Regions from separate parts of the Homo sapiens genome. Here region 1 is linked to region 2. The links come from fine-mapping of genetic effects on gene expression. A gene starts in region 2. The other region holds a variant in brackets. All regions are shown on one strand. Distances are between the middles of the regions. Region 1 has its middle 21 kb from the start of LONRF3. Region 2 holds the start of LONRF3 (LON peptidase N-terminal domain and ring finger 3).

Region 1 (5,373 bases), 21 kb before region 2:
TGTTAATGCCTGTGAAAGTATTTAATGTACCACGCATCGCTCTGAATAGAATCCATTCTGGACAGAGAATTCATAGACTCTATCATTAATATGTCTCTATCTTTTAAAAAAAACCAATTCCACTTTCAAGAACAAAGACATAATGCTGCTCTGATCCTTGAAGTGAATAATCTAGAAGGGCTTGCCACTTTACCAAAATAACTTACAGCTTTACTGTGGATTAAAATTGAATCAAAATTTAAGAAGAGAATTATTTAATAATGACATAATCTACATTTGGGAAGTATATTGTTTCTTTCATTACTGTGTCATTTATTTTACTGTGCAGAAAATATTTTTCCTTTTTTTTTTGAGACGGAGTCTCGCTCTGTCACCCAGGCTGGAGTGCAGTGGTGCGATCTCGGTTCACTGCAAGCTCTGCCTCCCGGGTTCACGCCATTCTCCTGCCTCAGCCTCCCGAGTAGCTGGGACTACAGGTGCCTGCCACCACGCCAGGCTAATTTTTTGTATTTTTAGTAGAGACAGGGTTTCACCATGTTAGCCAGGATGGTCTCCATCTCCTGATGTGATGGAGATGCAGATGTGATCTGCTCGCCTCGGCCTCCCAAAGTGCTGGGATTACAGGCGTGAGCCACCGCACCTGGCCCAGAAAATATTTTTCAATTAAAATATTGGTTTCCTTTTTTTAACTAGAGTTTTTCTCTCTCAGAAGTAGTTATGAAGATGACAATATATATTGCAATCAGCTATTTTGTATGATTCATGAAGAAACACTTCAAAAATAACTTTGTAATAAAGACAGAAAACTGTTTCTTCACGATTGTGATTCATCATAATTATTTTTGAACATTTGGTAAATCTTATTTCTGTGGACTTTTTTTTCTTGAGACTTGGGTCTCACTCTGTTGCCAAGGCTGGAGTGCAGTAGTGCAATCATGGTTCACTACAGCCTTGACCTCCTGGGCTCAAGGGATTCTCCTGCCTCAGCCTCCTGAGTAGCTTGGACCACAGACTTGTACCACCATGCCTGGCTATTTTTTAATTTTTTTGTAGAGATGGGGTCTCGCTATGTTGCCCAGGCTGGTCTCCAACTCTTGGCTTTAAGCCATCCTCCCACTTCAGCCTCCCAAAGTACTGGAATTACAGGCATGAGCCACTGCACCAGACTGTGAACTTTTAAGAACTTTAAAACCCTTTCAGGGCTTATTTCAGGCCCTCCTTTATGAATTCTGCAAAGGCTTCACTTGGTGAAGAAAATGGACTTGAAGTACTAAGTGTAGTATGAAACAATGTGGTTACATATATGTTCCTGCACACTTTTCAGTTTCTCTTCTGAGAAGTTCAAAGAAGTCAAGGGATTATTTGGGGGAATTAAAGTAATTGCAAAGAGAAATAGTGTGGGCCAGCAACCCTTCCAAAATGACATGCTGTGTTCTCTGGGCCCAAGGGGCAAGCAGGAGGTAGGGTGTTTGTTGAAAGAGTTCTCTTTCACAAGAGAAGAAGGTAAGGTTACTATATCAATTCTTTATTTTCTTTTTATGAGACTGAGTTTCACTTTTGTCGCCCAGGCTGGAGTGCAACGGAGTGATCTCAGCTCACTGCAACCTCCGCCTCCCGGGTTCAAGCAATTCTCCTGCCTCAGCCTCCCGAGTAGCTGGGATTACAGGTGCCCGCCACCACACCTGGCTAATTTTTTTTTTTGTATTTTTAGTAGAGATGGGGTTTCACCATGTTGGCCATGCTGGTCTTGAACTCCTGACCTCAGGTGATCTGCCCGCCTTGGCCTCCCAAAGTGCTGGGATTGCAGGCATGAGCCACCCTGCCCGGCCAGTTACTATATCAATTCTTAAGAAGAAATCTGTAGTGGAGCCCCAGATGTGTTTTCTTCTGAAAGAGAAACAGAATATGGCAATGGTAATTGGGGCCATGTACTATATTTGGCATTTGTTCCAGGTCTACTTAGTTAAACTGAATTTTCTGCTTAAAGTTTGGAATTACTATTTTGGAAGATGCCACTCTAAGTTGTACAGAGCAAGTACACAGCTGTCATCTTTATTTCCCCTCAACAGCTATTAACAGTTTATCCTAAAGTGATGGATTTTATTCTGCTACGTGAATCATGAGTAGTGTAATCATAAAGCGTATTAATATTGTGAGGAAACTCTGCATTCTGAGTATGTACATGATTAACACCGTTTCTGGACATGAATAATGATGCCTAGGGTTTCTGACCTCACCCAGAACTTCCTAAAGTTTCAGAAAATGAAATTTTCAGCAACTACAACTACTATAATTTCTGTTGTCCTTCTAATATCAAGACTTAAAAAAAAATCCAAGCATGCACTTTCAGTCATGATTGCTACTTTAGGGGTGCCTGGGTCCTTTTCGTGTTGAAATGCCCCACTTTTAGGCCAGACGCGGTGGCTCATGCCTGTAATCCCAACACTTTGGGAGGCCGAGGCGGGTGGATCACGAGTTGAGGAGATCGAGACCATCCTGGCTAACACGGTGAAACCCCGTCTCTACTAAAAATATATAAAAAAATTAGCCGGGCATGGTGGCAGTTGCCTGTAGTTCCAGCTACTCAGGAGGCCGAGGCAGGTGAATGCCGTGAACCCGGGAGGCAGAAGTTGCAGTGAGCTGAAATCGCGCCACTGCACTCCACCCTCAGCGACAGAGCAAGACTCCATCTCAAAAAAAAAAAAAAAAAAAGAAATGCCCCACCTAATTCTCTCTAGGCAATGCTCCCACTTCCCAATCACTATTCCTCCTCTATGGTCCCTCAGACGTAAAATATCCAAGTGTGGGTATTTGTTCCCTCAAGGCCACAACTCAATCTTTTTAAGCAAAAGAAGTTCCTCTAGAAAGTTCATGAATCATCACTTGAAAGTAAAATGTTATGCATTCGGAGTGGGGGTATTCAAAGGATTCTTTCAATTCTCGAAGAGATCAGTATCCTCCCCCCCAAAAAAATTAAGAAATATGGTACTAAGGTCTAATGCAATGAGGTTGATGTAGTTTCATTTGAAGATTATTTGTAGTTTAGCAGAGAGCTCCTGGAAAGAATGCCTTAACCTAAAGAAAGAATTCTACAATAAAGGAAAAGTAGG[C/T]TCCAGTGGTGGGGAACGTATTATTTGGGAGAGGATTTTGGAGTACTTCACCACATTGTATGGGCAACTAATTATTTTTTCTTGCTCTGTCTCTTTAATACTGATGACAAAGGGATATCTGTCTTTTATTTCGCCCTGTAGTTATGGTCCTAACATATACTAGGATATAATACATTTTAAAATGTTAACACAAGTGCCAAAATGGGGTGGGGAAGCATTAAGTCCACTTAACTTTAGCAAGCACTTACTGAGCACCTACTATGTATAAAGCACAGTGCTAGGTGATATAGGATAGAAAGGCAAATAAAATTCTATAAGGTCTGAACCTTCCAGAACCTGACAATCCCTAGGAGGGGGATAGATAGGTGATATAGGATAGAAAGACAAATAAAATTCTATAAGGTCTGAACTTTCCAGAACCTGACAATCCCTAGGAGGGGTATAGATAGACACACACACACACACACACACACACACACACACACACACACACATACACGACAGTACACACACATATATATATATATATAAATAATATTAATGTAAGACAGACTATGAGATATGCTATTGCATAATATGGGAGAAGGCATTGATGCTAACTAGAGAGCACCTAGGAAGCTTTAACTAAAAGTAGAAACAAGGCTACCAACCCTCAAATCCCTGGACCCTTCCCCTTCTCTGAACAACTATCTTCAACAGATTCAGAGATTAGGTCCACTGAACTTTAATTTTTTCTCTTTTTTCTTTATTATGAAATATTTCAGACCTGCAAATGGTATATAAAAACCATTATAAATACCCATGTGCATAAATACCCATAACTTAAGCAAGAAAATGTTACAGATATGTTCTCATTGTTCAATTGCCACCTATGAGTGAGAATATGCATTGGGAGATATACCTAATGCTAGATGATGAGTTAGTGGGTGCAGCGCACCAGCATGTCACATGTATACATATGTAACTAACCTGCACATTGTGCACATGTACCCTAAAACTTAAAGTATAATAATAAAAAAAAAGAAAGAAAATGTTACAGATATAGTTGAAGTACCCACACAACTAGAATTATTTTACTAACATCCTCTGCTTTTATTTAAAAAAAAAGTTTTTTTTTTTTTGAGACGGAGTCTTGCTCTGTCACCCAGGCTGGAGTGCAGTGGCGCGATCTCGGCTCACTGCAACCTCCATCTCCCAGGTTCAAGCAATTCTCCTGCCTCAGCCTCCCAAGTAGCTGGGATTACTGCTTGCCACCACACTCAGCTAATTTTTGTATTTTTAGTAGAGACGGGGTTTCACCATGTTGTACAGGCTGGTCTCAAACTCCTGATCTCAAGTGACCCACCTGTCTCGGCCTCCCAAAGTGCTGGGATTACAGGTGTGAGCTGCTGTGCCCCGCCATCCTCTGCTTTTACTAGCAGCTTTGAAAGATGACCCTCAATGAACCCTGTCTTCTGGTATTCATGCCCTTGTGTCATCCCCCTCCCCCGACTGTGGCTGGACTTAGCGACTTGCTTCTAATGAATAAAATATGACAAAAGTTGTGGGATGTCAGTTCTGTAATTAGGTTGCAAAAGACTTTGACTTCCATCCTGCCAGCACTCTCACTCGTTCATTCTGATGAAGCCTGCTGCCACGTTGTGAGATGCTCTATGGGGTGGCCCACATGGCAAGGAATCAAGGGAAGCCTCTAGCCAACACCTTGTGAAGAACTGAGTCCTTCGTCCAACAGCCCACAAAGAGCCAAATCCTGACAACAACCATGTGAGTGAACTTGGAAGCAGATCCTCCTGGTTAAGTCTTCAGGTAAGACTGAACCCCTGGCTGACACCTTGATTGCAGCCTTGGAAGAAACCCTGAAACAAAAGACTCAGCGAAGCCATGTCTGGATTATGTTTTGAGCTCCTGAATTTTGGGGTAATTTGTTAATTTGTTATGCAATATGAACTAATATACCTTCCAAGAAGTAACCACTGTCCTAAATGTGCTGTTTATCATTCTCATACGTGTGTGTGTGTGTGTATATATATATATATATTTGTATGATCATTCCCATGCATGTGTATATATATAAATTGATTAAATGTTTTTATTCCAGTCTGCCATGGAAGAAGCATATATAAGTTGTATTAAATGTTTTAAAAATCCATATAAGTGCCATTACAATATTTGTATCCCTCTGGAACTAGCTTTTCCCTTATTCATTTTTCTACTGCCACCACTCAATCTTTGCTCTTCCAAGAGGTCTTTCTCTCACAGCCCC
Region 2 (5,373 bases):
CATAACAGGGCAAGGGAGGGGAATCAACCCAGGGGATATTCCCTTGTCAAGGTCATCCACGGAGCAAAGCACATCCCAGATTTGCATCTAGGAAACAATTTTGGGTAACAGACATATATATATATATTTTAGATATGTCAAAGGGGTAAAGCTCTTGAATTAAGATGGTTTCATCATTATCTATCTCATGAATCTCTACCTTCCCCAACGACTGTCCTTCCTCACAGATGCCTGAAGGGGCAGGCAGATAATTAGTGCTGGGGACCTCATTTGATAGTAGGGGAAACTGAGAGGTGAAAAGAGCTCCCTTCAGTTAGATAGCAACTCACCAGGAACTCCAGTTTCTCCCCTACTGCTTGGTATGGCCACCTCCTCCACCTCTTAGCCAGTCCTCCGACTTCTACATCTTAAAAATCTAGCTCAGGGGCCAGGCGCGGTGGCTCACACCTGTAATTCCAGCACTTTGGGAGGCTGAGGCGGGCGGATCACCTGAGGTCAGGAGTTCGAGACCAGCCTGACCAACATGGAGAAACCCCGTCTCTACTAAAAATACAAAAAAATTAGCCAGCTGTGGTGGCACGTGCCTGTAATCCCAGCTACTTGGGAGGCTGAGGCAGGAGAATCACTTGAACCTGGGAGGCGGAGGTTGTGGTGAGCTGAGATCGTTCCATTGCACTCCAGCCTGGGCAACAATAGCCAAACTCCATCTCAAAAAAAAAAAAAAAATCTAGCTCAGGTCTGACCCCGACTAAATGGACAATCTTCCATTGATTTCCCATCCCCTCAACCCCGGTTCAAGCCACCATCCACAGCATTTGGACTAGTCATTTGTACTTAAGTAACTGAGTTAGTATCATGAAATTTGGTCTTAGGATCAAAGCCACTCAAGGTTAGAGCTGGAGGGAACCTTGGAGATTAAGAGAAACTAAGGTTTGGAGAACCTACCTAAGGTTTCATAGCAAATATGTGACAAATCCAAGGCTTCAAGCCAAGTTTTCCAATGTGTCCCTCGTGCTTTCCTGACTACATCTGGAGTTTCTCTATTTCTTCTTCTCCTTCTCCTTCTTCTTCATTTTTTTTTTTTTTCGTGTGTGTGTCTTTTTTCCCCTATGTGATGCTTCCTTTCTGCCCTGTGACCCTCTCCCTCTGTCCTGTCTTATTAGAAAGAGGCTCTAGAGCTGGCTGCATAGTACCTGTTCTCTGGGACCTTGGTGTTGATCTAAGACTGGTTTAACTACCTAAAGAGAAGCAGAGACCCGAGGGGGCCTGCCATAACCCAACTCTGAAACATGACTTAATCCCAAGTAAGATCAGCTCTAACATTTGTTCAGAAGCAAAAATGATGGATTCTAAAGTTTGACTTCCCCAAGGTCATCTGGCTAAGAGGTGGCTGCAGCAGGGGGCAACAATAGGTCTTCAGGCCCCTGGGGCGGCAACCTGGCACTGCCCAAGAGCCCGCAGGCTCTGAAGGCCAACTGAGCCAGCGGCAAGCCTAGTCCCTGCCTCCCTGCTTGGAGCAGTGCGACTATACCGTTTTCTGTCTGCTCATTTGTGAGCTTGGTTCCCGTCCTAAATGTGGGGGTTCAAGGCAGACAAAGAGTGTGCAGTTGGCCACCCCGCTCGCCTTCAGGAAGTGTGTAGGACACCGTCGAGGCCCCCTAGCCATTGTAAACCAGGCGCTGAGGCTCGTGCCCAGTTGTACCCTTCCCGCGCAGCGCTCAGGAGCGACAAACCTGGAGGCTATTCGGTCTGCCACTGGGCTGTGCCGGGATTCGCGGACTTTCTCCTGAATAGCGCTCTCAGCTCGCGTCTTCCCCCTGCCACTCTCCCACGCCCCCAGAGTACCCACCGACCCCAGCAGGCCGGGTACATCCCTGCCGCGCCCATCCGGCCAGTGGCTCCAGGGGCCGGCCTGGTGTGTCTCCAGCTGGGCGCCTACCGCCTGCCCCAGCGCTAGTTCTGGCGTTGGGGGTAGAGAGGTAAAGAGGGGAGTTAGCGGGGCATCTCCCTCCCAGGGCTGAGCCGGCAAGCGCATCTTCTCCGCGAGTTCCTCACTGTCCAGCGAGCGCTGCCCAACTTCTGCGCCGGTGGGACCCGCTGCTCTGAGTCACTCTTGGCACAGAACACCAAGCACCCTCAGAAACCGAATTCACCACCTTTGGGAGGCTCCTGGGAGAAGGCAAGGAACCCAGGCGGGGCTCCCAGGGCTCTCGGGCTGGGACTGGGTTGTGTGTGTGTGGGGGGGCTTCACGGATACCCCTCCCAACCTGCTTCCTTTCCCTGACAGCAGCCATCTCCCCCAAGAGGGAGAGTCTTAGGCGTCCCGGAAGACCCTGCGGACTGTGCACCTCGAGGTACCAGCCTCTCCTGGGAGGAGTGGGGGGCCGCTGGTCAGCGGCTGGCAGAGGGGACCTGTTTGCTGGCCCGTTTGGAGGTGGGATGGAGTGGGGTTTGGAGACTGAGAAGCCCAAGAGAAGACACTGAGTTTCTCCCCACCCCACAACCCCACTTCCGAAAAAGAACCAGGTGGTGAGGAGGAATAAGGCGAAGTGTAAACACAAACAACCTCAAAAAGAAGCCAAGAAAAGCGAAGCCCAAAGAAGCAAGAGCAACACTGTTACAAAACTGTCTGGTTTTGTAACAATTTCCCCGCCGCCGGCCAATGAACAGCGTGGCGGCACGTCACGTGGTACCGTTTTATATAACACTTTGCTGAGACAAGACAGTTATTAGGCGGCGCGGGGCGGCCGGCATGGAGCTCCCGGAGGCGCGGCAGGGTCAGGAGCTCGGTGGCATGGCGGCGGTGGCTGCCCCGATTTCCTCCAGCTGCCACTCCTTGCTTCGTGTCCCCGGTCCCTAGACGCCTCGTCTCCTCCCGTGTCCCTCTTCCCATGGAGTCAGTACGGATCGAACAGATGCTGAGCTTGCCCGCTGAGGTCAGCAGCGACAACTTGGAGTCGGCGGAGCGAGGGGCATCAGCGGCCCAAGTAGACATGGGCCCCCACCCAAAGGTGGCTGCAGAGGGCCCCGCACCTCTACCGACGCGGGAGCCAGAGCAAGAGCAGTCTCCGGGGACCTCAACGCCGGAGAGCAAAGTCCTGCTCACGCAGGCAGACGCCTTGGCGTCCCGGGGGCGAATCCGTGAAGCCCTCGAGGTGTATAGACAGCTCTCCGAGCGGCAGCAGCTGGTGGCTGAGCAGCTGGAGCAGCTGGTGCGCTGCCTGGCGGAGAAAGTCCCGCAAGGCGAGGCGCTGGCGCCGGCGCCCCCGGACGAGGGTAGCACTGCAAGCGGCACCGTGGCGGCGGAAGAGACGGGGGCCGCCGCGGCTGCGGCGGCCACCGAGGTGTGGGACGGCTTTAAGTGCCGGAAATGTCATGGGTTTCTATCAGACCCCGTGTCCTTGTCGTGTGGCCACACCTTTTGTAAACTGTGCCTGGAACGTGGGCGGGCCGCCGACCGGCGCTGTGCGCTGTGCGGGGTCAAGCTCTCCGCCTTGATGGTGGCCACTGGGCGGGCGCGTGGAGCCCGGCGGGCTGGGCAGCAGCCGCCGCCGCCGCTGCGAGTCAACGTGGTGCTCAGCGGCCTCCTCGGCAAGTTGTTTCCAGGCCCAGCGCGAGCGTCGCAACTCCGGCACGAGGGCAACCGACTGTACCGCGAGCGCCAGGTGGAGGCGGCACTGCTCAAGTACAACGAGGCAGTTAAGTTGGGTGAGTCCAACGCGCTGCCGGGCCGGGGCTGGGGCTCGGTGGCTACATGAGGGAGCGGGAGAACAAACCCCGCAGCGAGAAGGGATTTGGACCAGGGCAGAAGAGGGGGCGGGGGACCCATGGACTGTGGCGGGGTGGGGGAGGGGTGATTCTGGGGCTGGGTCTCTGAGTTTGTTCTGTTTTCACTGCTTATCTGTGTTTCACTGTGTTTGTGTTGATCTCGGTTGCTTTTTGTCTTTTCCTGCTACTTCTGTTAGCTTTTGTGTTCCTGTCTCTCAGTCCCCGTTCCTGTCTGTGTCTCCTTGCTTCTGGTTCTTTTTCTCCGTCTCTTCGTATCTTTGTCACTGTTTCTTTCTTTTTCGGTGTCACTGTCTCTGTTCCTCTGACTCTCCTTCTCCCGCTGCACTCCTGGTCTCCTCTTACACCTGCTCGCACCTTCCCAGCGAGGAGAGGAACTTCGCGCGCTCCTCGCACTTGCGCCCGGTCCTCTGGGCTGTAGCCAGCAGGAGATGTCCGGTCGGCGCCTGCGTCCGCCGCTCGCGCCGCCGGGTGTTGCCCCTTCCGGGGCCGCGGCTCCCTGTGGGGTGGGTCCGGCATGGAATTAGGTCAGGAGAGCACTGGTTGCATAAGGGCCGCGAGCGGCCCGGGTCGGGCGCCCCTCCCCCGCGCGAGCGGGCGGGATTGTGTAACCGCTGAGGTAACTGAAGTGGGCCACCACGCTCGCTTCGGAAACCATCCCACGAGCATGTGCGGGGGGAGGGGGAGCGCTTGCGCCCCGCTGCCCTGTGACTCATTGTCACCGCTTCCTATCACACGATCCTCGGCTGAAATAGATGCCCCCCCTTGCCCGCCCCGCCAACCCGTAGCCTGTGCCCTCGCCTCCAACCCCTTTAACCTGGCCAGCCCGGCGGGAGGCCGGCGCGGCAACTGCTTGGGGATCCCTGGGGACCGTGGGCTGGCTACGAATGGGTCACGCCTCTGTCCCGCTTTTCAGTGCCGCCTGGGAGGGTTGGGTGGGCTTTGCAGCTTCAAGGGTAACGTGGGCAGTCCCCCATCTCCAGCTAGACTAGGGCACCCGAATTTCCCCAGGGAGCCGCTCTCTGACCCACCACGCCTGGACCCAGGAAGTGGCTGCTGAGCCGCCAGCCGGTGTTGCCCAGCTCTGGCAGTTTGCCAGGAGCTCGGCCGTGGGGCGCGGTGTCTGGCGAAGCATGCCGGGGAGGAGGCAGCAGGGCTGGGCAGGCAGGGCCCTGGGATCCGAGGGTGTCCTGGACCTGACTCTGTGGAGTGGAGGAGGGGTGTGGGCCGGAGTCTCCACGTGTTTAATCTCCACTCAAGCTTGCAACAGGTAATGGGGGGAGGAGGAGGAGGAATGAGGACTGAAGGGGCAAGGCTGGCAGCCGGAGAAGGGGACCCTTCTAGCTCCTGTCTGTGCACAAGCAAGGCAGACTGTGAGCTGCCACCAGGCTGGAGTGTGCTGCAGAAGAAAAAAGACAGAAAAGACTAAACAATTTGCTAATGTCTTAAGAGCAAGTAATGGGCACGCAAGCAAGCCCTGAGCACACCCCTGGGGAAAAAAAAAACATCAAAGCCTGTTGCCACAGAGGAAGCTAGATCCCAGATCTTGGGGAAGAGCAGGGCAATATGAATGAGGCAGGTGGAGGT

Evidence for each region.
Region 1: its variant is fine-mapped to the expression of LONRF3 in nasal epithelium (TOPMed, PIP 0.92).

Annotation. Positions count from the first base shown.
Region 1 is chrX:118,950,461-118,955,833 of GRCh38, forward strand. No RefSeq gene overlaps it. Among named protein-coding and RNA genes, the nearest start is that of LONRF3, 21 kb to the right of the region's middle. The variant C/T (reference allele first, on the strand shown) is at 3,111.
Region 2 is chrX:118,971,890-118,977,262 of GRCh38, forward strand. It overlaps LONRF3 (LON peptidase N-terminal domain and ring finger 3), which reads left to right and starts at 2,729. Exons shown (of 11, transcript NM_001031855.3): 1 at 2,729-3,708. The coding sequence starts at 2,892.